Linked DNA regions of Homo sapiens. The protein of the gene in region 3 interacts with the protein of the main gene of each other region in a pairwise test. Each region holds a gene or a part of one and is shown on either strand. Other genes may lie near its edges.

Region 1 (8,060 bases), on a different chromosome or scaffold from region 3:
GACCTGTGCTTCTTAAGCCTTCCCTGATGACAGAAGAGAGTGCACACCTGCCTGGGAACAGGGGTACAAGAAAGGTCTGCTGGAATACTTTTTTTTTTTTTTTTTTGAGACAGAATCTTGCTGTGTCGCCCAGGCTGGAGTGCAATGGCTCGATCTCGGCTCACTGCAACCTCCACCTCCCAGGTTCAAGCGATGCCTCCTCTCCTGTCGCAGCCTCTCGAGTAGCTGGGATTACAGGCGCCCGCCACCACACCCAGCTCATTTTTGTATTTTTAGTAGAGATGTGGTTTCACCATGTTGGGCAGGCTGGTCTCGAACTCCTGACCTCAAGTGATCCACCCACCTTGGCCTCCCAAAGTGTTGGGGTTATGGGCGTGAGCCACTGTGCCCAGCCTGGAATACTTGAAGTCTCATGTTTTATCTTAAAAATGCATGCAGATTTTTCATTCTGATTCATAAACGGTTGTGTTTGCAATTATTTATCAGAGTAGAGAACTGAGGAGCCAGACAGTTAAACTGATCTTGTGTGCCCAGCCACAAGACCACTTTACTTGAGATGGCCTTTGTAAGTCACCAAGAACTGATCTGAGTATACTTAGTACTATTCTCAAACTGATTACTTGTACAGCAATGTTGATTTTTAAAAAGAGAATACTACTAAGTATTGCTGTACAAGTAATCAATTCGAGGTGCACTATAAAGTGTGTTGTATTTTACTAATTAAACCACTGTTGGAGCTCCTCACTGTGCACTATGTGCCAGGTGCAGTGTCAGCAGATTGATCACAATAGATCCACTCCTTGCCTTCCTGAAGCTTACTTCTGGGTAGGGAGGCCGACACTAAAGAGTCAGATAACTATGTCTATAAAGTTGTGACAAGAGGTGTAAAGAAAGATAGCAGGCTAGAAAAGCCTGCAGGGAGAGAGCAGGTCAGAGCCCTCCTAGGCTCTCAGCACCAAGGGATTCCTGGGAAGTCTGACTTCCTAGGAAGAGTGCTCTGGAGGCAGCCTTCTGACGTGGAGGTTGTTGGTTACCAAGCATTTAAAGTGAAGTGAACTATTGTCACTCTGTCTTAGGATGACACAGTGCACTTTCCACAGGCCTGGGTAGGCCTAGGTATGGATTTTTGTACTGGAGATCAGACAGGTTGGTATTTAAAAACTGGTGGGGAGTGGGGGTGGTGGAGAGGTTGGGGAGGTGGCGGGCGACTAGGAGTGTGAAGGGGAGGGGGGATGGTGGTATTTGCTTTAGACGCATTATGCAGGAGGTGGGAACAGCAGGACTGAGGGGTGTGAGAGGTGCCTCTTCTCTCTGTTTTTCCTCCCTGATGTACACTCTTCACACTTGCCTAGAAATCAGTTAACAGGTGAGAACTGCTTTACAAATCTAGGCCTCAGTTGCTAAAGAACCAAACAGAAGCCCACTCTCTTTCCTGCCTGCCCTTCCCAGTCCCTGAAGGAGAAGGTGAATGCAGTATTCTCTGTTGGGGAGGGGCAAGTGAGGAGGTTGAACTGGAAGCCAGGAGTCCCCTCTGGCCCTCTGAGCTCGCCAAGCCTGACTTTCCGTTTAACAGGAGTAAGGGAGGTTACCCCACACCTGCTCCCGGCTCATCCCTGCCCCAGTGCCTGCTAATTGCTCCCATGCCCCTGTTCCCTTCTTTTTTTCCTCCCTTCGGGGGCTCAGCACAGCAAACAGGCAGATGGGGGAGAGGTGTGAGATTATCGTGGGGAGGGGAATGAATTTTCCATTATTAATAACAGCAACAACAACAACACTTCGCCTGTTGGCACAGCACTCACTAGTTTATCTAGTGCCGTCACACCTGTGATCTCTTTGGATCCCAGAGGTGCAGACTGAAACCCTGGGGTTCTGATTCCCAGCCTCTGACACTGTTCACATGTCCAAGCAGGCCACTTCTTTACAGACACACACATGCCCATCTGGCCATTGCCAAAGGCCATGTCTAGACCTTTACTTAAAATGTGCGCTGCCGGGCGCGGTGGCTCACGCCCGTAATCCCAGCACTTTGAGAGGCCGGGGCCGGCTGATCACCTGAGGTCAGGAGCTCCAGACCAGCCTGGCCAATATGGTGAAACCCCGTCTCTGTTAAAAATACAAAAATTAGCCGGGTGTGGTGGCGCATGCCTCTAATCCCAGCTATTCGGGAGGCTGAGGTAGGAGAATCGCTTGAACCCGGGAGGCGGAGGTTGCAGTGAGCCAAGATCGCGCCACTTCACTCCAGCCTGGGCAACAAGAGCGAAACTCCGTCTCAAACAAAACAAAACAAACAGAAAAAAATGTGCGCTAGCCCCCTACGAATGCTGCCCTCTCGGCTTATGTCAATCTCAATTTCAGTAAGTCCCCTCCACTTCTGTGAAACGTCTACCAAATACACTGGAAAAGGGTCGGCAAGGTGCCTTGGAGACCATCTAGTCCAACTTTGTCGCTGGTCCAGAGAGAAGGGCTGGGCCGAGGACACAGCTGGTGCGGGATAGAACCACCCCCGCCTCCTCCCTCCCTGGCGCACACATGCATGCACACGCGCGCCTGCTCACGGCGCTCCTCCTTCTCGCAATGCCCTAGGCAGCTGCAAACTTCGGTCCCCTAGAGCTTCTCCCTAGGGGCTGCCCACAGCGGGTGTTTCGGGAGTTGAACCTGTACACCTTGTTTTCCCCTTTAGAGTGGAATGAGGTGGGAGGAGCTCGCTGTCCTCCGGAAACTAGAGGGGGATCTTTTATGAAGTTACAAATCGTTAGCCTATGAAAACTCTGATTTCACACACGAGAGGCGAGTTGGCCCCAGGACACGGGCGTTGACACGCACCGGGTTGTCCCGGCAGCCGAAGGCACCTTTGCATAAGCGCCGCGTCTCCCAGTCCCCTCCGAGCGTTCCTCAGCCCCCGCCCCACCGCCCGCCTCTCTCCCTCCTCCTCTCCGGCTTCAGATCGTCCAGTCTCCCTTTCCCGCCCGGCGCCGCAACAAGTGCGGGCGTCGCGGCCCCTCTTACCCTGGCCTCGGTCCATGGCGCCGGCCCGGTCCCCGGGGAGCGGGCCGCAGGGCGCAGGGGCTCCGGCGCGGCTGGTAGCGGCCGGCGCGCTGCGCTCTCAGGCCAGCCCAGCGGCCGGCGCTCTCTGCGGTCCCCTCCCCCAGACAGGATGCTCGCCGGCAGCCCCCGCCCCGCCCGCGCCCGCGCCCGCCCCTCAGAGCCGCTCCCGGAATAGACCCGAGCACGCCTCGCCCCCTGGGCCGCAGCCCGCTGTCCCGTGGTGCCGCACACGCCCCGCCGCGCCCTGCCGCTCGCTCGCCCTCCGCGGCGCTCCCACTTGGGCTTGGAGGACCCTTTTCCCCGTCCGCACGCGTTCGTTCCCGCGCCCGCGCGGCCTGCCCCAGCCCGGACCCAGGAGGTGTGCGGCTTTGCTTGCACTCCGCTAGCGATGGGGTCTTACCACCGCACCCCTCAGCCGGCTCCATGCCGGAATGCGGAGACTGTTGGAGCGCGTTTTTATCCTAGGGAATCAAAACCCCCTTCCCTGCAGCCGCCACCCATTTCCTGGCTTTGGGCTTGTCTTCTCCATTCGCCGCGGGTCTTTCTTGAGCACCTTCTAAGCCAGACAGTGGGCCCGCGGCGATGCCGGTGCAATGTCAGTGGTGTTGCGAAAGAGGAGTTAAATAATAACAAAGATCTTCAGAAAGAAAAGCACCTGGGAAAGGGAGAAAGAGAGGCTTGCTGAAAGGTGGGCAAGGGCTTGGGACACTTTCAACTTTTGAGGTTCCTTGTGTACTAAAACGTGAAAACATAACGAGGATCTGGGAGAATTCAGAAAAAGAATAGAAAAATGAGTAACACGTGAAAACATGCAGAACAGGGTGATAAAAAATGTGGAAATGAATACTTTTAGCATACAAAATACAGTGCAATATAAGTGTACTTTTCGCAAGATTGTAGAAAATATTGCTATGACCAGTGTGGAACAGTAATGGGATCTAAGTTTAAAGCTGTATGAAGAATGTCAACTTCTTCACCTTATTAGTATATCCCTGTGAAAATAGGTCTCACTCATTTATACACAATATCAAATGTCTGACTTTAAGACCCTTCATAAAGTCCAGGACCAATTGTTCTCCTAGACACTGCTCCTCCCACCATGGGCCAGGCCATGGTTTTCAGCTTTGAGCTGACCACTGTTCCCTACTTAGAACATTCTGGAACAGGGAACAGCTACCACAGAGGTATGGAGGCAACAAAAGGCCTGGGAAAGACCCTCCTGTACTTTCCTGGACTGGGAATATTTTCTTTTCTTCTTTTTTTTTTTTCTTGAAAAGTCTCCCTTTGTCGCCGAGGCTGGAGTGCAGTGGCGCGATCTCGGCTCACTGCAACCTCTGCCTCCCGGGTTCAAGCAATTCTCCTGCCTCAGCCTCCTGAGTAGCTGGAATTACAGGCGCCCACCATCACTCCGGGCAAATTTTTGTATTTTTAGTAGAGACGACGTTTCGCCATGTTGGCCAGGCTGGTCTCGAACTCCTGACCTCAGGTGATCCACCTGCCTCGGCCTCCCAAAGTGCTGGGATTACAGGCGCCAGCCACCTAGCCTGGCCGGGAATATTTTCTCTATTGCTTTTATGGGCAAATTAAAATTAACATTTTCTTAAAATATTGCATCAGTAATTTAGTGTGTGTGTGTGTGAGCACTCAGACCAAATGTGATGTTGTGAACAGTGTATGAAAACTTGTGCATGGCTCTTGTTCTGTTAGTTTGGTGCAAAAGTAATAGTGGTTTTTGCCACTGAAAGTAATGGCAAAAAACGCTATTACTTTTGCTCCAATCTAAATACTACATAGTATAATAACTTTTCGTCAATGAGGTTTTCTTGCTCATCTGTGCTATGGGAAGCCTCATACTGTAAGTCCTCACAGGACTGTTGGTAGGGCAAATGAAATAATACAAACCCACTTTATAAACCACAAACAGCTATAAAATATGAGCCATTATTATTTTCTGAGTTCCTTTTTGTTGCTGTCCCCTTTTCCAATTTGAAAAGGTCAGTTTCAATTCTAAAGCAGCCAACCAACAATTTACCAGTGGATTAAGTTTTAAAAGTTTATTGTTTGAACTCTGAACACTTGGAAACAAGGCCATAAATTGTATTTTATTTTATTTTTTAATTATTATTATTATTATTTTTTGTATTTTAGTAGAGACGGGGTTTTACCATGTTGGCCAGGATGGCCTCGATCTCCTGACCTCGTGATCCACCCGCCTCAGCCTCCCAAAGTGCTGGGATTACAGGCGTGAGCCACCGCGCCCGGCCTCCCATAAATTGTATTTTAAGTTCTCAGGCTAGCTCACTAATTCTTCTAAAAACATAATATTTCATTTGAAATAATTTAGAAAAACAGTATGAAATGTTACTATTGCAAAAACAGACGGAGGCTTTTGTAAATATTTTTATTTTTATAATGTTTAAAAAAATATTTAAGATAGAGACAAGGTTTCACTATGTTGCCCAAGCTGGTCTCGAACTTCTGAGATCAAATGCTCCTCCGGCCTCGGCCTCCCAAAGTGCTAGGATGACAGGCATGAGCCTGTAGAGATGTTTAGAGAACTTTCAGAAACTTTCAAGGACTTTGGAGATATATTCAGAGAATTGGAACGAAAAAGTAAAAAAGGCTAAGGAAAATGGAATAATTTATGGAGTGGAATTAACTGAGCTGTGGTCTGGGAAGGATATAGAAATGGGAGAACACAGTCTGTGCACAGTTCTGAGAATCAACAAAAAATTGTTGCTGGCAAGGTATAGGGGTTCTGGTTTAAATAATTACCCATAATGTCCACTAGGTGGCAATGTTGACTAGTTGTCTACAGCTTGGTTGCTGTCAGAGTAACTGAGATGGATGAAAAAGTTATTTGCGGGTTTGGACAAGGAATAACTTTTTTTTTTTTCTGTATGTTTCCTTTAGTGAGTTCTATATTCCTCATAAAAACTAACAATCCACACTGCCCATAAATTCGCTTAGGCAATATTGATTGCACTCTGTGCAAGTTTCTATTGAGAGAAGAAATGCTAAGTAGGAATGATTCTCACCCTCAGGGAATCTACAATCTAGTAGAGGAGACAGACATGTATAAAATAATATAATATAAATTATTGTATGAAAAGTACCAGAGGAGAAATAAAGTGGTCTTGGAGTCCATCAGACAAAGTAAGACTTTTTTACTAATCATGGAGGCTGTAATGGATGACAGATATTTGGAAGGCAGGCAACTGAGAATGTGTAATGAGGAGATAACATTATGGGCAAAGAGCAGTGAGAGCAAAGACATTGAGCTCAAAGGCAGCAGGACGTGTCTGTGAAGCAGTTCAGGTTGGCTGGATCGTGGGTTATTGGGGGATAAGCATCAGGGCAAGGATAGGAATGAAGGTTGTGATACCTGCTTTTCTCTTCCCCTTTCCATTTCATTTTGAGTGCAACTCTCTGGCAAGGATTTTTAGAATCTGCCTCATATCTTCCTTTTCACTACCTACTTTGCTGACTTCCAAGTTTTCCAGGTTTGCCTGGATTTTGTCTAAAGAATGCTATGTGGGGAGCTCCAGCTCTGTAAGAAGGTATCAAATTTAGCCTTAGTGAACAATACCAGGAAGAAAGCTTTCAACTCCCTCCTGCTCCCTGTCTTGTGAAAACAAATGATACTCCCTAGTCTCATTCTTCGCTTATCAGGTGGAACTGGGAAACCCTGGGAAAGAAAAATTTGGAGGCTCAGGACTATTTGTTCCAGGGAGAGAAATATACTCTAGCCTCCTAACCTGTCACCTTACCTCTAGGGACTGTTTCCACCATGGCCAACAGAGCGACCATTCCATGATCCCAATCAGACCGTGCAACTACCCCCTTAAAAATATGTGATGGCTCCCCGGGCCCTCAGCGGAGAGTCCAGATTTCTTATTATGGTGTTTGGGGTGCCTTCTTCACTGAGCCTGCAGTGATCTCAGGAGACTTCAGGAAGAGTAAGAAAAACAACAGATGGGTGCTCAGATCTGGGTTCCTAAGTCAACTTCATTGCCGTGTGAATCTCAGTTCTTCCACTGGGTCAATAGTACATAATTTCTTATGTGCTTCTTTACCTATGCTTCCCTGTCCCCCACCAGACTGCAAATGCTGTGAGAGCGGGCGCTGTCTTACTCATTGCTAGATCCTTAGAATCTAGCACAGTGCCCAAACACCTAGTAAATGGTAATAGTATTTGTGGAATGAGTCAGTGAAAACATACTCAAGGGTGTGTAAGGCCTGCCAGTTTTGGCTTCTATTAATGCATGTGTCCTGGGGGTCCCATTTGTCCTCTGGGATTGTCGTATTTGCTTATTTATTTGCAGGGGGAAATGAACTTGTGACCAGGCCTTCTGGAGACATGCTGCTGTGCTGCCCAGCCCCTGTGTGCTGCTGTGGATGTGTGGCTTCTCCTTGGCTCAGGGCCCCTCTCCCATGCTCCTTTGTGTGGGGTGATCCCCAGAGCCCTCTGATCGGGTGTCTGCCTGATGCTGGCTGCAATGAAAACCTCTCTTGTTCCACTTAGCACAATGTTGCCATTATAGCCCCTATCCAGGGAAATGACACACGTCTGCTGGCCCACCCTGGGCCCCGGAAAGCAGATAGAGATCTCAGTGGCTGTTTCTGGGAGAAAGAGAAAGAGTTTCATGGATGGATGAAAACTCCTTCTTCCCATGCGCCTTCAGGTTTCTGCTCCAGGGCACGGGGCTCCTACTTGCATGGAGGCAACAGGGCTCAGCTTCCACAGTTGTTAAAACCAAGCCCAGTGGTTGTGTCTGAAGGAAAAGGAGCTTTTGTTTTATGCTGAAATGCTGCATGAAGCTTACTCCATCCCTTTGGATTCTTCTCCTTAAGCGAGATCTTAGGCTCCTGAAGCGAGGCTCGTGCCCTGAAGCACCTACAGGGCCGGGCAGGGAAGGGTGTGCAGGAAGCAGGCCATGCAAGTGGAGGGGCCACAGCAAAGCGGAGCCCTCTTGCTCCGTCTGAGGGGCCAGTCACCAGTCAGCTTGGAAATG
Region 2 (7,164 bases), on a different chromosome or scaffold from region 3:
CTGACTATGTCACCCAGGCTGGAGTATAGTCATAGCTCACTGCATCCTTGAACTCCTGGGCTCAAGTAATCCTCCCACCTCAGTCTCCCAGGTAGTTGGGACTACAGGCACGTGCCAACAAGCCCAGCTAATTTTGTATTTTTTCCTTTTTTTTTTTAACTGAAATTACATAACTGAGATAATTTTTGTCTTTTTGTAGAGACAGGATCTCACTGTGTTGCCCAGGCTGGTCTTGAACTCCTCAAGTGATTGCCTCAAGTGATCCTCCTGCCTCAGCCTCCCAAAGTGCTGAGATTAGAGGCATAACCCACTGCAACTGGCCTGAAGTGAATATTTCTTTTAAATTGTGTTGAGCATAGACCATAGGGAAGCAAGGGTGGAAGCAGAGAGACTGGTTAGGAAACTAAAGTAATAATCCAGGTGACAGAATCTGGATACATTTTGATAGTATAGCCAACAGACTTTGCTGACAGATTGTGTGAGAGTAAGAGTCAAAAATGGCTTCAAAGTTTCTAACCTGAGTAACTAGAATGGAGGAAGTGCCATTTACTATTATGGGAAAATCTGCAGATTTGTGAATGGGAGAGAGAGGAAAGGTTGGTATTTTAGCTTGGCCACGTTAAGTTTGAGATGCCTCTAAGAAATTCACATTGAGATGTGGAGGTGGAGGAGGCAGTTGAATAAATGAGTCCAGAAGTGAGGAGAAAGATCTGGCAATAGATATAATTTTGGATTTTATAGTAGTGTTTTGATAGGAGTTGTTGATATCACCAAAAGTGATATTCTATGGAGTTTGGGTGGATTTGGAGTTCTCTGCAAAGGTGACTGAAGGAGCAGCCAGTGAGCAGAGAAAAACCCACTGTTCAGTAGGTGTTCTAGAAGCAAAATGAAGAAAGTAATTAAGGAGGAAGGAAAAATAAGTTATGTTAAATGTTGCTGTAGGTCAAATGAGATGAGGATTCATAATTGACCAGTACATTTAGCAACATGGAGGTCATTGGGATCTTGATAAGAAACTTTTGGTGGAGTAAAGGGTACAAAAGCCAGATGGGTACTTTTATTTATTTATTTATTTTTATTTATTTATTTATTTTTGAGAAGGAGTTTTTGCTCTTGTTGCCCAGGCTGGAGTGCAGTGGCGCTATCTCGGCTTATTGCAAGCTCCGCCTCCCAGGTTCAAGTGATTCTCCTGCCTCAGCCTCCTGAGTAGCTGGGACTACAGACACCCGCCACCATGCCCGGCTAATTTTTGTATTTTTAGTAGAGACAGGGTTTCACCATGTTGGGCAGGATGGTCTCGATCTCCTGACCTCGTGATCCACCCGCCTCGGCCTCCCAAAGTGCTGGGATTACAGGCGTGAGCCACCGTGCCCAACAATGGGTACTTTTATTTAGTAGAGTATGGGAGACAGCGAGTATGGATGCAGCACTCTTTTACTGTGTTCTTTGTCCAGATTGTTCTAGCCTGTCTTTAACTCCTCTTCTTGCAGGTCTTTGCTCAAATAATCATTTTCTCAGAGGTGTCCCTGATCTAATTAAATACTCTTCTTGTAAATAGACCTATTGCACCGTAAACCTTGAGTTGCTCTTATGTTACCAATTAGTTTTGCAGTTGTGCCATGATTTGATTAAAGTGTGTTTATTTCAGTAGAGCTTAAGCACACAAGAGGAACTACTGTGCTTGTTTTTGTTGATCATCTTATCTCTACCTCTGAGTACAGTGCCTGGTACCTAGTACAAACTTAATAAATGTGTGACGCAAGAATAAAGGAATGAATGAATGGAAGAATGATATAATGCCACAGAACTTTCAAAGGTATGGCATATTTATCTATCATTTACAAAAACACAAAGTAATTAATGGATGGACGAGGGTACATTATAATAAAAACATTTTAGAAAGTTCGTCCTAAAAAAAACAAAGCCGGGCACAGTGGCTTATGCCTATAATCCTAGCACTTTGGGAGGCTGAGGTGGGCCGATCACTTGAGGTCAGGAGTTTGAGACCAGCTCGGCCAAGATGGTGAAACCCCGTCTCTACTGAAAATACAAAAATTAGCCAGGCGTGGTGGTGGGCGCCTGTAATTCCAGCTACTTGGGAGGCTGAGGCAGGAGAATCGCTTGAACCCAGGAGGCAGAGGTTGCAGTGAGCTGAGATCGTTCCATTGCACTCTAGCCTGAGTGACAGAGTGAGATTGTCTCAAAAAAAAAAAAAAAAAAAAGAAGAAAGAAAGAAAGTTTACAGAATCTGTAGCCTAGGAAATGTAATTACTGGTCACATAAAATTTTATTTAATGTGATACAGTTTCACATTGTTTAATTCAGAGTTCTTATATTCATAATGTCTGCTTTTTGGCTGGGCATGGTGGCTCACACCTGTAATCCCAGCACTTTGGGAGGCTGAGGCAGGTGGATCACCTGAGGTCAGAAGTTCGAGACCATCCTGGCCAACATGGTGAAAGTCCATCTCTACTAAAAGTACAAAAATTAGCCAGGCATCATGGCACACGCCTCTAGTCCCAACTACTCAGGAGGCTGAGGCAGGAGAATCGCCTGAGCCTGGGAGGCAGAGGTTGCAGTGAGCCAAGATCGCACCACTGCACTCCAGTCTGGGCGACAGAGTATGACTCTGTCTTAGGAAAAAAACAAAACAAAACAGTCTGCCTTTTTTGCTGCAACATATCAATAGATGTTATGGAATTTAGAAGAACTTCTTTAGATCAGTAAATTTTCACAGTTACATTTTAGAAGAGTAATTAATTAGGGAACAGATATTGAGAGGTTTTGCTAACTTTGGTCATGGACCATGGAATCATGCAGTATGTTGCCTTTTAGACTGGCTCCTTTACTTAGCAATGTGCATTTATAGTTATTTTATGTCTTTATATGTATGGCTTGGGAGCTCATTTGTTTTTATCACTGAAAAATAATCCATTGTATGGATATATCACAGTTTGCTTATTCACCTTTTGAAGGACATCTTAGTTGCTTCCAGTTTTTATCAATTATGAATAAAGTGTCCTAAAAATTTATGTGCAGGCTTTTTCTGGGCAAAAAATTTTTAACTCATCTAGGAATATGATTGCTGGATCTCAGGTAACCCTATGTTTAGCTTTGTAAGAAACTCACAGCTGTTTTTCTTTTTCTTTTTTCTTTTTTTTTTTTTTTGAGACGGAGTCTCACTCTTTCGCACAGGCTGGACTGCAGTGGCGCCATCTCGGCTCACTGCAAACTCCGCTGCCGGGTTCACGCCATTCTCCTGCCTCAGCCTCCTGAGTAGCTGGGATTACAGGCGCCCGCCACCGCGCCCGGCTAATGTTTTGTATTTTTAGTAGAGACGGGGTTTCACCGTGTTAGCCAAGATGGTCTCGATCTCCTGATCTCGTGATCCGCCCGCCTCGGCCTCCCAAAGTGCTGGGATTATAGGCGTGAGCCACCGCGCCCAGCCATACAGCTGTTTTTCAAAGCAGCAGTACCATTTTCTATTTCCCACCAATGAATGAGAGTTCCTGTTGCGCCCCACCTTTGCCAGGATTTGGTGGTATCAGTGTTTTGGACTTTAGCTGTTCTAATAGGTATGTAATGGTATCTCATTATTGTTTTAATTGGTGATTCCCCAATGACATATGTTGAGCATCTTTTCATACGCCTATTTGCTGCCTGTGTATCATGTTTGGTGAGGTGTCTTTTCAGATCTTTTGTCCATTTTTAAATTATTATTACTGTTGAGTGTTTTTGTTTTTTAGAGGCAGGGTCTCCCTAGGTCACCCAGGTTGGAGTGCAGTGTTGCTTTCATAGATCACTGTAACCTCAAACCCCTTGGCTCAAGCAGTCCTGCCTCAGCCTCCGAAGTAGCTAGAACTACAGGCATGCACCTCCACGCTCAGCTTACTATTGAGTTTTAAGAGTGCTTTGTATATTTTGGACACACAAGTCCTATATCAGACCTGCATTTTGTAAATATTTTCTCCAAGTCTGTGGCTTGTCTGTTCATTCTTTAATAGTGTCTTTTGCAAAGCAGAAATTTTTAATTTTAGTGAAGTCCAGCTTTCATGTATCATGCTTTTCGTGTTGTAGCTAAAAAGTCATTGCCATACCCAGGGTCATGTAGATTTTCTCCTGTCTTCCAGAACTTTTACAGCTTTGTGTTTTGCATATAGGTTTATGATCCATTTTTTAGTTTTTTTTTTGTAAAAGGTATAAGGTCTGTGCCTAGATTTATGTTTTTATTAAAAAGTTTCTGCTGGATCTGAAATTATTATTTTGATCAATAATATTAAAAGGTGAAAAACTTTTTTTTAAAGACCATTATACTGAATCTGTACAACTATATTGGTGCCATTCTTCAAAACTGTTCCTTGAGAGAGAGACCTGAAGTCAGCCTAAAGATGAGGCCAGGGAGAACTTTATCTGGAATGTATCAGGAAACCGGACTAACAGTTCCATTTTAGTTATCTGTTGTCAGCATGTGCAGTTGGCTGAGTGCTGTAAGTGAAAATTGTTAGGAAGACTTTCTACAATTAAGAATATTATTCTCCAATTGAATTACCTTGTTACTTGTCTACATTGCTGGTTTTTGTTTTTGTTTTTTTGCTACTTTTTTGCCTAGTCTTACAAGGTTGCAAAAATCAACCTGTGATTTTTCCACAATAGTTTGACCCTTCTCTACAATGAAACACTGAAGCCATGTAAACTTAAAATATCTCTTTCTATGATAACTGACTTCAACTTAAGTTTTTAAAGGAAATTATACTAATTATTTACTGTATAGTAGCATAAGCAGTTTTGCCTCTAAATGCTTCCTTAGTTTTTCTTTTGGCTTGTTGAAAAATGTCTTGTCAACCAAGTACTATATGTGTACTTTTATGTGTGGGGTATATGTGTATTGCCCAAATGAATCATAAAGGCTCTTAATTTGAATCTGTATATTTTATTTTTAAGTTTTCCTTAACAAGGTCGATTTGAATTCCTTAACAAGATTGATTTGAATGATATTCTTTTCAGCCCTTCAAAAACATATTTTCTGAAACACTGTCATACATACTATTCTCAGAATACCATGCCCCTTTTTTCTATGTTATTTTGGTTCCATCTTTCAGGAATAAATGAGTAAACCACTTAAATCAAGTTTACTCTTCAGTATTTTCTCCAGTTTTTCTGTTTTTGGTGTCTCCAAATTTACTATAGTATGCTTTGAATGACTAAATCTCTAGTATTTCTGACATATATTAATGGATAGATTTTTAAAAACCAATAATTGTTGAATCTATTTTCATTTTGCTCTTCTTGAAAGATTTGTGAGCGAGCTCTAGCAATATACGCAACATACAATATGAATTTTATAAACCAGTCTCACTACTGATTTTATTCTTATTTTTCTACTTATTTTCCTTATCCACATTTTACATGAATATATACATATATAGGGGTAAGATATTAAAATTATATGTCATTTTTAAAAGCATTACATATTTCAAACAAAAAATAAGAGTAACAAAATAAATACCCTTTTAAACTACCCCTTGGAATGAACAAATGTTAACATTTTACCTAGTTTGCTTTAGTTTTTGTTTTTTTTTTTTTCAATGAAATGAAATATCACATAGGTTGTGAAAGTGCTCTTGGCACAGTCATATATTGTCTTTGTCTTTTAAAAAAATGTTACATAGAAGATATCTTACTATCTGTAACTTACTTTCTGTTTTACTCAACAATATATTTTCAGAGCTTATCTGTGTTGCTAAATGTAGATCTTGTTTTCAAATTTTAGCTGGTGTATAGTGTTTCATTGTATGAATATGATACAACTTATTTATCCAGTCCCTATTAATGTATATTTATTTAAAAAAAAAATTTTTTTCTGTTGCAATCAGTGCAGCAGTGAACATCATTATACATATGTCCAGATATGTGCCATTTTCTCTAGGGTTCACTCATAAATTCGGAGAAGTGGAATTGCTGAGTTATAGGATATACACAGGATCACATTTTTCAAGTTATGTTTTGTTTTACCAGTTTACACTCCCACTGGCAGTTCATGGGAATTTTCATTTCCCCACATCCTTGACAAAACTTAATATTGATAGGCGTGTTTTTTTGTTTGTTTTTTGTTTGTTTGTTTTGTTTTGTGAGACAGAATCCCACTCTGTTGCCCAGACCAGAGTGCAGTGGCACAATCACAGCCCACTGCAAGCCTCAACCTCCCGGGCTCAAACGATCCTCCCACCTCTGCCCTACAAGTAGCTGGGAACACATGTGTGTGCCACCACACCCAGCTAATTAAAAAATTTTTTTTTTGTAGAGACAGGGTCTCACAGTATTGCCCAGGCTGATCTTGAACTCCTGGGCTCAAGAAGTCCTCCCACCTCAGCCTCCCAAAGTGCTAGGATTACAGACATGAGCCACTGCACTGGGTCCTGATAGGCTTCTTTTAAAATTTTTTTCAATCTAATGGGTGTAAAATAATTTCTGTATTGTTTAAATTTGCATTTTCCTGATCAATGAAGTAGAACGTTTTTGTCCTTTTAGCTATTCGTGTTTTCTTGTCTTTTAACTTCCATTGTACCTTTTGTTCCTTTGTTAATTGACCTTTGTGTTTTTCTTAATAATTTATAGGATAGAACTTGTTTCTGTATTTCAGATACTAATCTTTTATGTTATATATGTTTCTTTTTTAAAGATATCATCAATGATGTTTTTTGTTATACAGACATTTTAATTTTTATATAGTTTTATCATTTTTTCTTTTTTATTTGTAAATTGTCTTGTTTTAAGAAATCTCTTCTTACCCAAAGTCTGAAACGTACTCTATATTTTCTTCTAAAACAAAGGTTTGTTGTTCACGTATAGATGTTCAGTCTAGCTAGAATTTATTTTTGTGTTTGGCATGGAGTAGAGATATATGTTTATATTTTACCGTGTGGATAGCACTGTATAGTGAATATTGGCATAGTGAATATTGAATAGCCAATCCTTTCTCCATGTAAATGCCCTCTTTTTCATATACCAAATTCCCACATATGTAAAAGTTTATTTACTCTCTTTTCTTTTGTATCAGTCCCTTTTGTCTCACCTCAGGCCTATACCACTATTTTAATGACTGAAGTACCATAATCAGTCTTAATAACTAGAAAAACAGTACCATCTTTTTGTTCTTTTTCACAG
Region 3 (7,061 bases):
GCCTGCAGGGACCAGGCAAATGCCAGACAGGGCTTACACGTGCCAGTGGACCTAATGTGACATTTGGAACATACTTACAGTGACAGAGAGGATGTGTGCCACCAACTCTCCCCTACACAAATGAACAAGTCAGATCTGAATTTGTAAGTCTTTCGGGACACTGTCCACCAAACTAAACCCATCTGTGGGCCAAATGGCAACCAGGAGCAATCTTATAAGACCCCAATAAGGTTCATGAGGGGTAAAGGGCACAATTTTTATTTCCTAGGTTGGGAAACTAAGGTTCAGAAGACTTGGGCATGTAGTCAAGCTGGGAAGACTGCACATCTGTGGCTTCTCAGGGGTTTTCAGCTACAGTGCAGGCTGGTGTCTGTCACTACCTAGGACTGTGACAGGTGCCATGAATCATTTCTTACTGTCGATAGAGAAGGGAACAAATGCATAAATAATGTATCCTTCCCCCTCAATTACTTTGAAGGATTTCCCTGGGCTAATGTTAACCTCTTTCATGCTACATAAGTGCTCACCCAAGAATAACTGCTCCTTCCAGAAAGTCTTTGCATAAGGATGACTGACCAGAAATGTCCAGCTTTTGCTAGATGTGTGTGTGGGAGGTGTCCTCCTTTCTCAGCTTCCTGCTTCTTGTCTCAGTTGTCCTCTGAAGCCTCCCCATGTGCAGATTCATGCTTCACCCTGGGTAAGGAGGAGGGCATGGTGGTGGTGAGAGCCAATGCAATGGTGTCCTTCACATGCTGGAAGGCATCTGAGATGCACCTGTTGGGTTTTAAGTAATAGCTTTTATGTGTCCTGCATGAAAACCTGGCTTCCTTTTGAGTTAATGTACTATTGTCACTGAGTTGCTGCTGCCCCCTATCATTCAAGAGCTTTTTTGGACCGAAGAAAACCCAACAGAGGACCCCCGAGGAGACTTGTTCTGGCCCGAGAAGGGGCTGGACGAGGGAGAATAGTGAGGGCAACATGAAACCTTTTGGAAACGGGCCAGCCCAGAGTGCTCCAAGAGCCCTGTGCTGACATAGGACACTGTCCTGCACAAGCTGAGACACAAATGATGCTCAACCTTTTTGGCTTCATCTTTAGGAACTTGGCCCCTTTATTTTGTGCTTCAAACTTCAGTTTCTTGATTGTAAGCGCAAATGTCTGCAGGTGACAGGAGGGTGATGTAAATGAACAAAGCAGCCAGGTGTCCTCAGCTGGGGTCTGGTGGGGATTGAGGTGAATGGGAGAGCAGTGCCCAATGCGGGATCCCAGTGCCCCCGACCCCTGCTGAAGGTTACCAAGGTGGGGAGGGGACTCTAGGCACATCATGGCCAAATCTACCCATTTTCCAAGAGAAGCTAGAAATCCAGATGTTTATATGAATGCAGCTAACTTTGAAAAGTGGCAGTGAATTTGACTTTGCCTAAGACGCCTCATAGGCCAAAGAAATCCCACGTGCAGTCTGCAAGGGGCTGGTGCGTAGCCAGCTTTGCATCCCACAGCCTCTGGCTGACTGGTCGTGGATTCTGGCACATTGTTTGGGTAGGATAAGGGCATACACCTGCTATTTAATAACAATGTTGTGCACTCTCCACACATAAGTAACTTGTGAAAATACAACAAAGAATATCTCATAAAGCTTACTGCTTACTTAAAGCTCATTTCCTTCTGTACCCAAATGAAAGACATCTGCCCATCAATGACCTAGTCAAGCCATGGAAGAATGAGAAGCACATTTTAGAGAATGTGTTAATAAAAACAGTTCAACTATAAACATTTCCAAAAAGGTTTTAGAATAGAGCATCTCTGAGGATATCCCTTTAAGTAAGTCACCATCACCTGCATTATTGAGATTTAGGGGAAGGTTTAGGGGTGCAGTCACAGGAAGCTCAGGACAACATCTCAGCCACCTGTGACCTGAAGCACAGAGCAGGCCAAGTCCCTTGCTGCATGCAATTTGGGAGAGCTGTGGCCACAAAGCCGTGTAGTGGGATATTCTGGATCCTCAAACTTCTAGTGGGCATTGCCCACTCCTCAACACAGGGGCATCCCAGGCCCAGAAGCTTCAGCATGTGTCTGAACTGAAGGGTGGTGGTGGGTCTGCTGGAAGGCCACCTTTGCCTGCAGACAAAATTGTTCTTCCCAATTGAGATGGGGGCTTTGGGGCCATTGGGACTGACATAACAAAGCAAAGTGAGGCTGTATCATATGTCAAAAAGGCAGTTTCCTGAAATTGAATACTTTAAAAATGTGAGCAGAGTAGAACAGCCCCAGGGGTCGTCAATCATCTCTTCTGGTCCAGGCTAGCTCAGGAGGGACTGGAAATGCACCCACCCCCAACTCGAAGCCGGGAGTGTTCATTAGTGGCCTTCCTCTCGGAGGAGGGGCTGAGGCTTCAGGCCTAGCCTTTGTTTTCTCTGGCCTGGCATGTAGGCAGATTTTTAGCGTCATAAATTGGAGAGGTGGGTGCTAGCATGTTAAGTAAATCTTATTTCCAGCATGTCCTGGGGACCTGGGACTAATACATTTTAAGAAATGTTTAATAGTAGGCCGGGTGCGGTTGCTCATGCCTGTAATCCCAGCACTTTGGGAGGCCGAGGTGGGTGGATCACGAGGTCAGGAGTTTGAGACCAGCCTGGCCAACATGGTGAAACTCTGTTTCTACTAAAAATACAAAAATTAGCCCGGCGTGGTGGCGCACCTGTAGTCCCAGCTACTCGGGAGGCTGAAGCAGAAGGATCGCTTGAACCCGGGAGGCGGAGGTTGCAGTGAGCCGAGATTGTGCCACCGCACTCCAGCCTGGGCAACCGAGCGAGACTCCGTCTCAAAAAAGAAAAGAAAAGAAAAGAAAAGTTTAATAGTTTTAAAAGAGTAATACCTATATTCCAATCACTTAAAATTAACATATTTTATCCAATCAAGGCATATCATCATTTTATACATCAAGAAAGAAAAGAAACTAGCGAACAAACGGGGCATAATGCCGCCTGGCTCCGCTTCCCCCTCCCCTCTCCCCCCGTCCTTAGGAGACACCTCTGGAGTTCAGAAATGCTAGGAGAGCAAGCTCTTCATTCTTAGAATCCAGGAAGGGCCGGGCTTTTGCAGCTCTCCTCTGCCAGGAAGCCGCTGGGGGGCGCAAGACGCCAGCTTCTCACCTTGGCAGAAGTGCCTGCCTGCAAGCGCAGAATGGAAACTTCCCCATAACAAATTCAGAAGTACCTTGTACATTCACCACCCACCTGAAGAAAGCCTGAATGAAAGGAACAAAGCCACGGCGTTGTTTACTTTCCCATTATCGCCCCAGTCTTGCGGCAGGGCCCGGGTTTCCATCCAATCCACCCGGCCCGCCACTGTCCTGGCCAGTCTCCAAGGCTTCACCCAAAAAAAGGAAGCAATGAGGTGTCCCCCAGCGCGCCTTTTCACGTAGCACAGAAGGTGCTCAGTGGGTGAATCCTCTGAAAGTGCCAGCGTGTATGGTCAAACGGCAGCAACCTCTAGCCTATTAAACTCTCCCAAGATCTCTTCCAGACTTATTCCATTGCCGGAAAAAAGGCTTTTTACATATGCGCATTTAAGTAATTAAGATATTTCAACATGGTATAAGACGTAGGGGCTCTTACTCCATCAGTACTGGATGGGAATTTCCTTTTGCCCTCTACTCCCCAGGGTAACTGCAGTCCCACCTGAATGCGTTTTGCAGCCCTTACTCGGGTTCTATTTATGCGCAGCTTGGACAGGGCTCACTGGGCCCGGCCGGGCAGCTCCGTGGCCGTCCCTCTCCACCGCCCTTCCCCCGCGCCAGGCCAATGCAAGGGTGTGTGTGTTGGGGGGAGGGGAGGACAAAAGGGGTTCAGGATCTTTTTAACCTGCCTGCAGATGGCGCCCCGGGAAAGATTCCGAGCTGCATTACCTAAGCTCCAGGGGCTGCAGCCGCGGGGTCCCGGCCACAGGGCGTCCAGCCGCGAAGACTGCACAGCAGCTCTCCGTCCTTCCCAACTCGCGCGGCTGTTCGGCACCCGTGCGAGGAACGGATGGAAGGGAATTACTTGTAGCAGGGCCAGTACTGGGGGCGTGCACTCAGGGACCACGGAGTGGCACTCAGCCTCGACCCCACGCGCCAGGCAGCCCGGCGACCCCCACGCGCGGCGGGGTCCTGCCCACCCCACCCGGCGGCAGGTGGACAGTGTTGCTATGAAGAGAAAGCCTCGATTGTCCCTACAGCAAACCGCCACACGCCAGACCTCTGCTATTGTGCGCCCTCCATAGAAATGCAAACGAGCGGCGTGCGCCGGCCGCAATCTGCTCGTCCCCGCCCGCCCCCGTCTCCCGCGCCCCGCCGCGCTCGGCCAAGGGCGGGGAGGTGGGGTGGGATCTTCCAGAGACGGCTCAATGTACACATTGAGTATGCCTGGCAGGCATCACCAGCGCGCTCGGGACGCTAGTGGTCAGCTGCAGGGGGCTGTGCCCACTGCCTTTTGCAAGCCTCTAACTGGCGCTACCTGTTTTTACCTTAATTTCTGGCTCCAATGCAACAGTCTCATAGACTTCAAATTAAAGAAAAGAAACAAATAGAAAGGTAGCAATACAAAATGCAAAAAAAAATCCCTTTGCTTCTATAAAGGTGCTTTTCGCAAATTGCAGCATCATATAAGCAAACAAGGTTTTTGTGGGTTGGGTTTTTTCTTTTTTTTTTTTTTTTACTTTTTCCTTTTAAGGACTTCAAAAAAAAAAAAAAGCCAGGCGAGATGAAATCTGCAGGCTCCAGTCTGCCTGGTAACACCCCAACAAAAGCGGCAGATTTGAGGCATTGTCATCCCCCGCACCCCTCCCCACGTGGCCTTCTGGCACGAGCCGCTGGCTCGCCGCCTCATTTACATCAGAAAGCGGGTGCCGGCCAATAGGCGCGCAGCCTCGCGCCAGCTGGCGGCGCCGCACCCACCAGCCTATATAAGGGCGCGCAGCGTAGTAGGGGCGCACTCGCTGGTGGTGGGCGCGCCGTGCTGAGCTCTGGCTGTCAGTGTGTTCGCCCGCGTCCCCTCCGCGCTCTCCGCTTGTGGATAACTAGCTGCTGGTTGATCGCACTATGACTCTGGAAGAAGTCCGCGGCCAGGACACAGTTCCGGAAAGCACAGCCAGGTGGGTTTCAGGGCGCTGAGAAAGCCGCTGGTCGGTCGGCGACCGTCAGGGTTTTCCAGGGTGGGAATCCGCGGGGTAGGAGGGGAGCGCGGGGGTCCGGGCGCCAGATCCCGGTTGGAGAGCCGGGGTGCAGGCGCTGAGCCGGGATTGGAGTGTGGTTGGAGTTGGGGAGCCAAGGGTGTGTGCCGGTGGCCGGGGCTGGGGTCTCCGCCGCGCCCTCCGGCCGGCTCCCGCTCACTGCGCTGGCTCCTCCGCAGGATGCAGGGTGCCGGGAAAGCGCTGCATGAGTTGCTGCTGTCGGCGCAGCGTCAGGGCTGCCTCACTGCCGGCGTCTACGAGTCAGCCAAAGTCTTGAACGTGTAAGTGTAGACGCGGCCCAGGCTGGGAGACAGGGGCGGGGGTGAATGGCGAGGAGACTGGCGGATGGGAGGGGTGGCGGCGGGAGAACTCGGCTAGCCGGTTCTGACCTAGGTCCCCGCCTTGCCCTCGCAGGGACCCCGACAATGTGACCTTCTGTGTGCTGGCTGCGGGTGAGGAGGACGAGGGCGACATCGCGCTGCAGATCCATTTTACGCTGATCCAGGCTTTCTGCTGCGAGAACGACATCGACATAGTGCGCGTGGGCGATGTGCAGCGGCTGGCGGCTATCGTGGGCGCCGGCGAGGAGGCGGGTGCGCCGGGCGACCTGCACTGCATCCTCATTTCGGTGAGTACAGTCCCGTCCTGTCCCCGCCCCAGTGTCGTTCCCGCCTCGGCCCGCGGCCAGCCAGGCTGACCCTGCTCTCTCTCCGCAGAACCCCAACGAGGACGCCTGGAAGGATCCCGCCTTGGAGAAGCTCAGCCTGTTTTGCGAGGAGAGCCGCAGCGTTAACGACTGGGTGCCCAGCATCACCCTCCCCGAGTGACAGCCCGGCGGGGACCTTGGTCTGATCGACGTGGTGACGCCCCGGGGCGCCTAGAGCGCGGCTGGCTCTGTGGAGGGGCCCTCCGAGGGTGCCCGAGTGCGGCGTGGAGACTGGCAGGCGGGGGGGGCGCCTGGAGAGCGAGGAGGCGCGGCCTCCCGAGGAGGGGCCCGGTGGCGGCAGGGCCAGGCTGGTCCGAGCTGAGGACTCTGCAAGTGTCTGGAGCGGCTGCTCGCCCAGGAAGGCCTAGGCTAGGACGTTGGCCTCAGGGCCAGGAAGGACAGACTGGCCGGGCAGGCGTGACTCAGCAGCCTGCGCTCGGCAGGAAGGAGCGGCGCCCTGGACTTGGTACAGTTGCAGGAGCGTGAAGGACTTAGCCGACTGCGCTGCTTTTTCAAAACGGATCCGGGCAATGCTTCGTTTTCTAAAGGATGCTGCTGTTGAAGCTTTGAATTTTACAATAAACTTTTTGAAACAAACTTATGCTCTTTATTGAGGGTAGGGGATCTTTGTGTCGGGGGAGGTGGCGTGCAGGGTTTCAGAGGATTGCTGGAACTCCGTGGAACTGATGGCACCTGTTCCGTCTTCCTGTCGGGCAAGAATGACAGGCTCCTCCCCTCTGGCAGAGGGAGGGCATGCTGCCCAGTGCTAGGGTAGAACTTGAGCCTGGCTCCTACTTTTCTCCTTTTAGGAAGATTTTAAACTTGCAAAACAGGAGCATACTTGAGATAAGACAGTGCAGCAGCTGAAGTCTTGCCTTCCAAGGCGATAACAGTGACCTGTGCCTCCCCTCCCCCTCCTCGGCCCTCCTCCCCCTCCCTCCTACAGCTGCTTATCTGAACAGCTTGCAGGAGGCCTCAGGCTTTCCTGCACAATGAGCATTGCCTTCTGCAGGCCCTGCCCTTTGTGGTCCCTGAGGATGGTGGCAGACTGCTCCTGCTCTTGGGGACTTTTTCCTCTTAAATGCTCTGACACAAAGCAATGCTACAAAGGTACTAATACCAAATATGACATTGATGACTGCAT
Region 4 (7,164 bases), on a different chromosome or scaffold from region 3:
GCGGAGCAGCCCCTCTGGGAGAGGCACGGCCTGGCTGGGGCCAGGACCGGGGCTCAGGTTACTGAGGCCCATCATCGGCTGTTCTGAGTACGAAGGCTGAGAGGGCGCTGGACCTTCCTGGGAAGTCTCTGCAGCTGTCATCGGGGAAGATTTGGAAGGCGATGCTGGATTCCGTTTCTGGAGTGGATCCATGGAGGTCTGGTCCCAGCTGGAAGCTCCGCCAGGCCCTCGGGTCCAGAAAAGGAGGTGAAGCTGGAGGTTCTCAGACACCAAGAAGGTGGCGAGGAATGTGTGCGGGCAGAACCCAGACTGCAACGCAAGGTGATAAGACAAGAAAACACAGAATTATTCATCTTACTCAACCTCTCTGTCCCTCCACTTCCTGTGTGTAGAATGGGGATTATAGAGAGACCCTGTCCTAGGCTTCTTCTGAGGATGACGTGAGATCATACATCTCACCAGCTTAGAATATTAATGCCATCTAATAAAGGATTTACAAATGATACCAATTAATGCATCCACGTGACACGGGGTGCAAAAGGATGCAATGCAGTTCGACGATGTCAATTCCCTGCTGACATTTTCCAACCCCTTCCCAAGCATCATTTGTAGAATAATCAATGTGTGACTCACAGGTGCTCTGCCCATGAGCGTTCATTTTCATCCACTCACAAGGGAGACTTTTACTCAACTGTAAGCGTTTGCACCATGGGGACACACCCTTTTGTATGTTCGCCTTCCTGACCACTGGGTTTGCATCTAGTCGAAAAGGCTGCTCATGCCTATGGAAATCGTTTCCAAATTCCTAGTGTGGATAAGAATTTATTTTGCTAAACAACAGAAGCATAAACCCCCAGGAGACTTCAAACAGAAAAACACATAGATGAATTCAATTAATCCAGGAAAAAAAAAAAAAAAAAAGCTGGTTCTTTGAAGTGATCAATGAAATTGATACACCCGTGGCAGGACTGGCTGGGAAAAAAGAGGGCAAAGAAACAAGTTACCAATATCAGGAATGCAAGAAGAGATTTCACTCCAGACCCAGAAAACATAAAAGGGTCAATATGGTAAGAATACACGCAACTCTACAGATTCACATTCCACAGGTCAGAGGAAATGTAGCACATACTTGAAAACCACAAGCTACGGAAACTCACACAGGATGGATTTCAAACACTGAACTGTGTGCACAGTCCTATATGTTTTAAAGAAGTTGAATTCACAGGCAAACACATTTGCAAAAAGATCTCTGGGCCAAGACAGTTTCACTGGCCAAGTCTACCAAACGTTTAATGAAGAAATATCACCAACTTACACAACTTCTTCTAGGAAACAAAGCAGAGGGAATGCGCCCCACTGATTTTATGAGGCCAGCACCACAGGGATACCAAGAAAAGGACAGACCAGTATTCTTTCCTAGTACAGGCACCAAAGTATTCAACAAAACCTTGCAGTTTGAATTGAGCAATATGTGAGAAGAATAATAAGCCACGATCAAGTGGGTTTTATAGCGGGAATGCAAGGGTTGTTCTTCCCACACCTGAAAATCAATCAATGTAACCCACAGATTGAGAGATCAGATGAAGAACAAAAATGACAGGATCACATCAAGCTATGCAGAAAAACCCTTTGATAAGATTCAAAGTCCACTGGTGATATAAAAGCTCTAGCACACTAGGAACACAAGACAACTTCCTCAACCTGAAAAAGGGCGTGTACAGTCAAACCTACAACTAACAAGCCACTTAATGGTCAACGACTGGATGCTTTCTGCCTAAGGATGCGAACCAGGCAAGGACGTCCACTCTCACCACAGCTATTCAACGTCACGCTGAGGCCCAGTCAGTGCTATAATGCCAGAAGAATCACGGCACACACCGGAGAAAGCAAGAAACCAAAGTACTCCTTTTCATGGGTCCTGTGATCGTCTACATGAAACAACCAGTGTATCTCCCCCAGACTCTCAGAGCTAATAAGAGCTTAGTGCTCATTAATGAGAGCTTAGCAGCAATACAGGAGAGAAACTCAACACACGGAAAACAATCCTATGCGTAACTGGAAACCTAAATTTAAGAAATAATACTGTTTTACAAAAGCTACAAACACAATGCAATGGTTATGTATAAAGCTAAAATACGTGGACGGGGTCTGTATGCCCAAAACTATTAAACGGTAATGAAAAAATCAAAGAAGATTTAGTTAAATGGAGAGAAACAATGTGTTCCCATATTTAAAGACCCAAAAAAGTTAACAGTCCATTGTCCCCAACTTGATCTGTAGAATGAATGCAGTGCCTGCCAATCAGAATCCTTGAGGGACATTTGCATGCATAAACAAGCAGATTCTACAATTCACGTGGAATATCTGATGTTTCAAAAAGCAGAAGGTATTTTAGAGAGATGATATTATCAGATTTTCAGATTTGCTCTAAAGCTGTAATAATCGAGATTGCTGGCTTACAGGGGTAGACGAGTAGATCCATGGAATAAAATAGAGTCCATGAATCCATCCATAGAAATGTGTCCAGTGAGTTTTGACATGGGTGTGAGAGGGAATCCAATGGAGAAGGGATAAGCTTTTCAATACATGAGGTGGCCTATCCTTACGCAAAAAGATGCACCTCAACCTCAACCTTTACACGCAATTAAGGAAAAAGGGTTCAGAGACCTACACGCCAAAGTTCAATACTATGACTTTTGGTAGAAACCGTAGGAGGACATCTTTGTGAGGGGAGGCTAGGACATGACCTGAGATGCATGATCCATGGAAAGGAAAGATGGATGGATAGGAGTTTGGCAAAATTTAAAACTCTGGCTCTGGCCGGGCGTGGTGGCTCCTGCCTGTAATCCCAACACTTCGGGAGGCCAAGGTGGGCAGATCACTAGAGTTCAGTTGTTCGAGACCAGCCTGGCCAACATGGTGAAACCCTGTCTCTACCAAAAAATACAAAAATTACCTGGCATGGTGGGACATACCTGTAGTCCCCAGCTACTGGGGAGGCTGAGGCAGGAGAATTGCTCGACCCAGGAGGCAGAGGCTGCAGTGAGCCGAGATCGAGCCACTGCCCTCCAGTCTGGGCGACATAGCGAGCCCCTGTCTCTAAATAAATAAATAGAACAGAATAGAACAGAATAGAATAGGATAGATAGAATAGAATAGGATACGATACGATACTATACGATAATATACGATACGATACGATACAATACAATACAATACAACACAATACAACACAATACAATACAACACAACTTTGGCTGTGTAAGAGCCAGTGTGTTCAGAGAATGAAAATCAAAGCTGCACCACTAGGAGGAAATGTTTGAGAATCACCAACCTGACAGATCTTATATCCAAAACACATGGCGCGTTTTCAAAACTCCACAATAAGAAAATCAACACCCCAACTAGAAAATGGGGGAAAGACTTGAATGGGAGCGCAAGAAACCATATTTAACATCATTCAGCATTAGGGGAATGCAAATTAACACCATGGAGACTGGCAAGGCCAAGCGAGAACATGTTGGGTGACTGGAACTCTCACACTTTGCAGCTGGGAGGGCGAAATAGCACAGCAACTTTGAGAAGCAGTTTGGCAGTTTCTTGTAAGTCAAACAGATGTTTACCATAGGACCCAGCCATCCCACTCCTGGGTATCTACCCTAGAGAAATGAAAACTTAGGTTCACAAAAAAGCCCGCACTGAATTGTAAAAGCAGCTCGATGCGAAACTGCCCCACACTGGACAGAGGAAAATGTCATTCAGTAGAAGGATGGCTGAACACCTGTGGTCTTCCACACCGTGAAACTGCCTTCATGAAAAAACAACAGCCTGTGACAGAGGCATCTGACACTCATCCGAGATGTTCATCGGGCCAAAAGAAGGAAGCCCGCCTCACAAGGCCACAAACTGTATGGTGTCATTGACATAACACTCTCCCCAAGACAAAACTAGAGGGAAGGAAACAGATCACTTTACACCAGGGATGATGGATGAAGAAGGGGTAACCGCAATGGGGCAGTTCCAGGGAGTGTCCTGCGGTGATGGGACTGTTCTGGATCCCGACTGTGGTGGTGGTGACAAGAATGTATGCCCGTGTCAAAGCTCACAGAACTGTACTCCTGAGGGAAAAAAGTCAATCTTGCTGTAGGTTAAGTGGAAAAACCCAACGGCATATTTTGCGATAAGGGTATCTCTCTGTACTGTTTTGATAAATACATCTTGGATGAGTGCAACCAAAAATTGACATTAAATGCTAAATGGAAACTTTAGATCAGCCTCCCAGGCTCTATTCTTTTGACAAACGTGGAAACCAAGAATTCACTAGTTTTCTTCAGAGGATACTGGTCCTCTGAATGTTTATTCACCAAATCGTGGCTATCAGCCCACACTGGGGCAAGAAAGACAGAACCGTAACAGGAACAGTTTGAATATGTACTGAACACAAACATATATAAACACACACACACACACATCCCAGAAAGAGTTCTTAACTTTTCAGAAATTGCAATCTATCTTTCCTACGAGTTAGTTCCCTGACATCCTTTGGGCCACCACTATCTGACACAAACAGTTAATGTGTGAAACGTTTGGAAAATGATCTTAACCCAATTATCTCCCAGCCAATTCTCATGTGTCACAAGGACTCTCTCAGGATCTATTTCTACATGTAGAAAGCCAATTCTCAGAGAGAGAAAAGACCTTACGACCCCCACCCCCCACGTTTCTTTTGCTGTTTTGTTTGTTTGTTTGAGGCAGGGACTCGCTCTGTTACCTAGTCTGGTGTGCAGTGGCAAAACCTCGGCTCATTGAAACCTCTGCTTCCTGGGCTCAAGGGATCCTCCAGTCTCAGACGCCTGAGCAGCTTGCACTACAGGCGTGAGCCACCATGCCCGGCTAATTTTTGTATTTTTTGTAGAGACGGGGTTTTGCCATGTTGCCTAGGCTGGTCTGGAACTCCTGAGCTCCACATGATCTGCATGCCTCAGCCTCCCAGAGTGCTGGGATTATAGGCGTGAGCCACTGTTCCCAGCCAGAAACACTTTTATGAGAAGAAATGTGAGCCGGGTGTGGTGGCTCATGCCTGCAATCCCAGCACTTTGGAAGGCCGAGGCAGGCAGATCACCTGAGGTCAGGGGTTTGAGACCAGCCTGGCCAACATGGCGAAACGCCATCTCTACGGAAAATACAAAAAAATTAGCTGGGTGTGGTGGTGGGCACCTGTAATCCCAGGTAATAGAGAGGTTGAGGCAGGAGAATCACTTGAACCCAGGAGGCGGAGGTTGCAGTAAGCCGAGATTGCACCACTGCACTCCAGTCTGGGCAACGGAGCAAGACTCTGTCTCAAAAAAAAAAAAAAAAAAAAAAAAAAAAAGAAAAAGAAAAAAAAGAAATAGGAAGATTCTGGAGACATCAACTGACAACCGGCCTGCATAGTCATCGCTCTCTTTTCTCTCTTTCTCCCTCCAGCAATTTTGTGAAATGAAACATTTTACCGTCCTATGTGTAGGTTCATCCAGAGATTCTCAAACCACACCCATGGAGTTGCTCATGATCCCTGACAGAGGCATTAAGGACAGTGAGGCCTAGAGAAGTCCGTTGTGTGTGCGGAGGGGAGCAGCTGCAGCAATACATGTGACTTCCCTTCCTTCATCATCTCACCAATGTCATTTCTTCAACAGGCACTTGCCCCCAGGTAAAAGACCTTGTATCAAAAATCTCTGCATGAAACACCACAGCCTCAAGTTTCCTGCATCATGTCATGCAGCTACCGAAGAGAGAGAAGGACTACTGGAGACAGGGAACCCAGACAGTTTACCGGTCAGACCTTCAGCATGAGAGGTGATGTCTCTGGGTACCAATCCCTCACTGTGATGGTTTTATCGGTCAACTCGGCCAGGCTTGGTGCCTGGTCCCTTTTGGTCAAATGCTACTCTAGTTGTTGCTGGGAAGGTATTTGTGGACATGATTAACATTTACAATCACGCTGGGCACAGTGGCTCACGCCTGTAATCCCTGCTTCGGGAGGCTGAGGCGGGTGGATCACTTGAGGTCAGCAGTTCGAGAGCAGCCTGGCCACCGGGGTGAAACCCCATCTCTACTAAAAATAAAAATTAGCCGGGTATAGTGATGGGTGCCTGTAGTTTGGGACTGCCATGGCCCTTGGCAAGACTTTCACCTCTCATTCACCCTGCATGACTCAGCTGAGATAGCACTTCTCCCAGGAAGCCTTCTCCAAGCTCCTAAAACGCCCTGTATTTCCCCTGTCCCAGCCCCAATCCCACTCAGCTGTCAACAGATGGTTATTTCTCTGTCAACCCACTAGCCCAGGAGCTGACAGAGGCCAGGGACTTTGTCTTGTTCACCCATCACAGAGCCTTGAGCCCAGTGGACATTCACAAATATCTATCAAATGAAACAAGAAGGATGTGGGGCCCGTGATAAACATCTCACTGAGAATGTCAAGTCAACCCTGCAGAATCCATATTTTCCCACGTTGCAAAGGCAGAAATTCCTGCATGGAGAGGTCAAGTAACTTCCCTCAGATCACACAACCACTCAGGGACAGAATTCCCTCCCAGGTCTCCCTGACTGCAGATGAACACACCCCTGGTGGCATTGCCTCTCTGGGTGTTCAGCCTCCCCTGATACCTAAGCGAGAAAGTAATCCTGAGGGAAGAGTTCAGACAGCAGAGTCCTAGGGGCTGACCCGCATGTCCACAGCTGCCCGGGGATCGGGTGCAATGCTGCGAATCCTTACCGTCACTTCCTCCTGGCCAGTTCTGTTCCCATGCCAGAAATGCTGCACCAAACGCACCTCTCACACTCCCCACTCTCATTCGCTTCAATTCTCCTGTGCGGAAGGAGAAAGAGAACAGCTAAGCAAGTGAATCCAGACGACACCCTGCAGATGAGCGCCAGGAAGAGCTTTGTGTTTCTTTTCAAAATTAAGCCAGTCCCATGTGATGCTTTTTTCAATCTTCCACAATAATATGAGATAATAAAATGCATTTATTTCAGTTTAAAGATACAGATTTCATTTAATAATCCCAATTAAATATGGACTTTTTTTTTTTTTTTTGAGACAGTCTCACTGTGTCGCCCAGGCTGGAGTGCAGTGGCATGATCTCAGCTCACTGCAACCTCCGTCTCCTGGTTTAAAGCAAT

The links.
Region 1: the proteins of GADD45G (region 3) and AFAP1L1 interact in binary tests that used the Homo sapiens proteins (3 or more experiments, as listed by UniProt).
Region 2: the proteins of GADD45G (region 3) and CEP57L1 interact in binary tests that used the Homo sapiens proteins (3 or more experiments, as listed by UniProt).
Region 4: the proteins of GADD45G (region 3) and FAM156A interact in binary tests that used the Homo sapiens proteins (3 or more experiments, as listed by UniProt).

Annotation. Positions count from the first base shown.
Region 1 is NC_000005.10:149,266,931-149,274,990, reverse strand, and holds the start of AFAP1L1 (actin filament-associated protein 1-like 1), read right to left. Parts: upstream 3,133-8,060; 5' UTR 3,023-3,132; coding exon 3,007-3,022; intron 1-3,006. UniProt on the Homo sapiens protein: May be involved in podosome and invadosome formation.
Region 2 is NC_000006.12:109,098,471-109,105,634, forward strand, and holds part of CEP57L1 (centrosomal protein CEP57L1), read left to right. Parts: intron 1-1,721; exon of another isoform or gene 1,722-1,816; intron 1,817-7,164. UniProt on the Homo sapiens protein: Centrosomal protein which may be required for microtubule attachment to centrosomes.
Region 3 is NC_000009.12:89,600,042-89,607,102, forward strand, and holds GADD45G (growth arrest and DNA damage-inducible protein GADD45 gamma), read left to right. Parts: upstream 1-4,970; 5' UTR 4,971-5,080; coding exon 5,081-5,133; intron 5,134-5,390; coding exon 5,391-5,492; intron 5,493-5,625; coding exon 5,626-5,839; intron 5,840-5,927; coding exon 5,928-6,038; 3' UTR 6,039-6,514; downstream 6,515-7,061. UniProt on the Homo sapiens protein: Involved in the regulation of growth and apoptosis. Mediates activation of stress-responsive MTK1/MEKK4 MAPKKK.
Region 4 is NC_000023.11:52,948,397-52,955,560, forward strand, and holds part of FAM156A (protein FAM156A/FAM156B), read right to left. Parts: intron 6,851-7,164; 5' UTR 6,758-6,850; intron 310-6,757; 5' UTR 193-309; coding exon 1-192.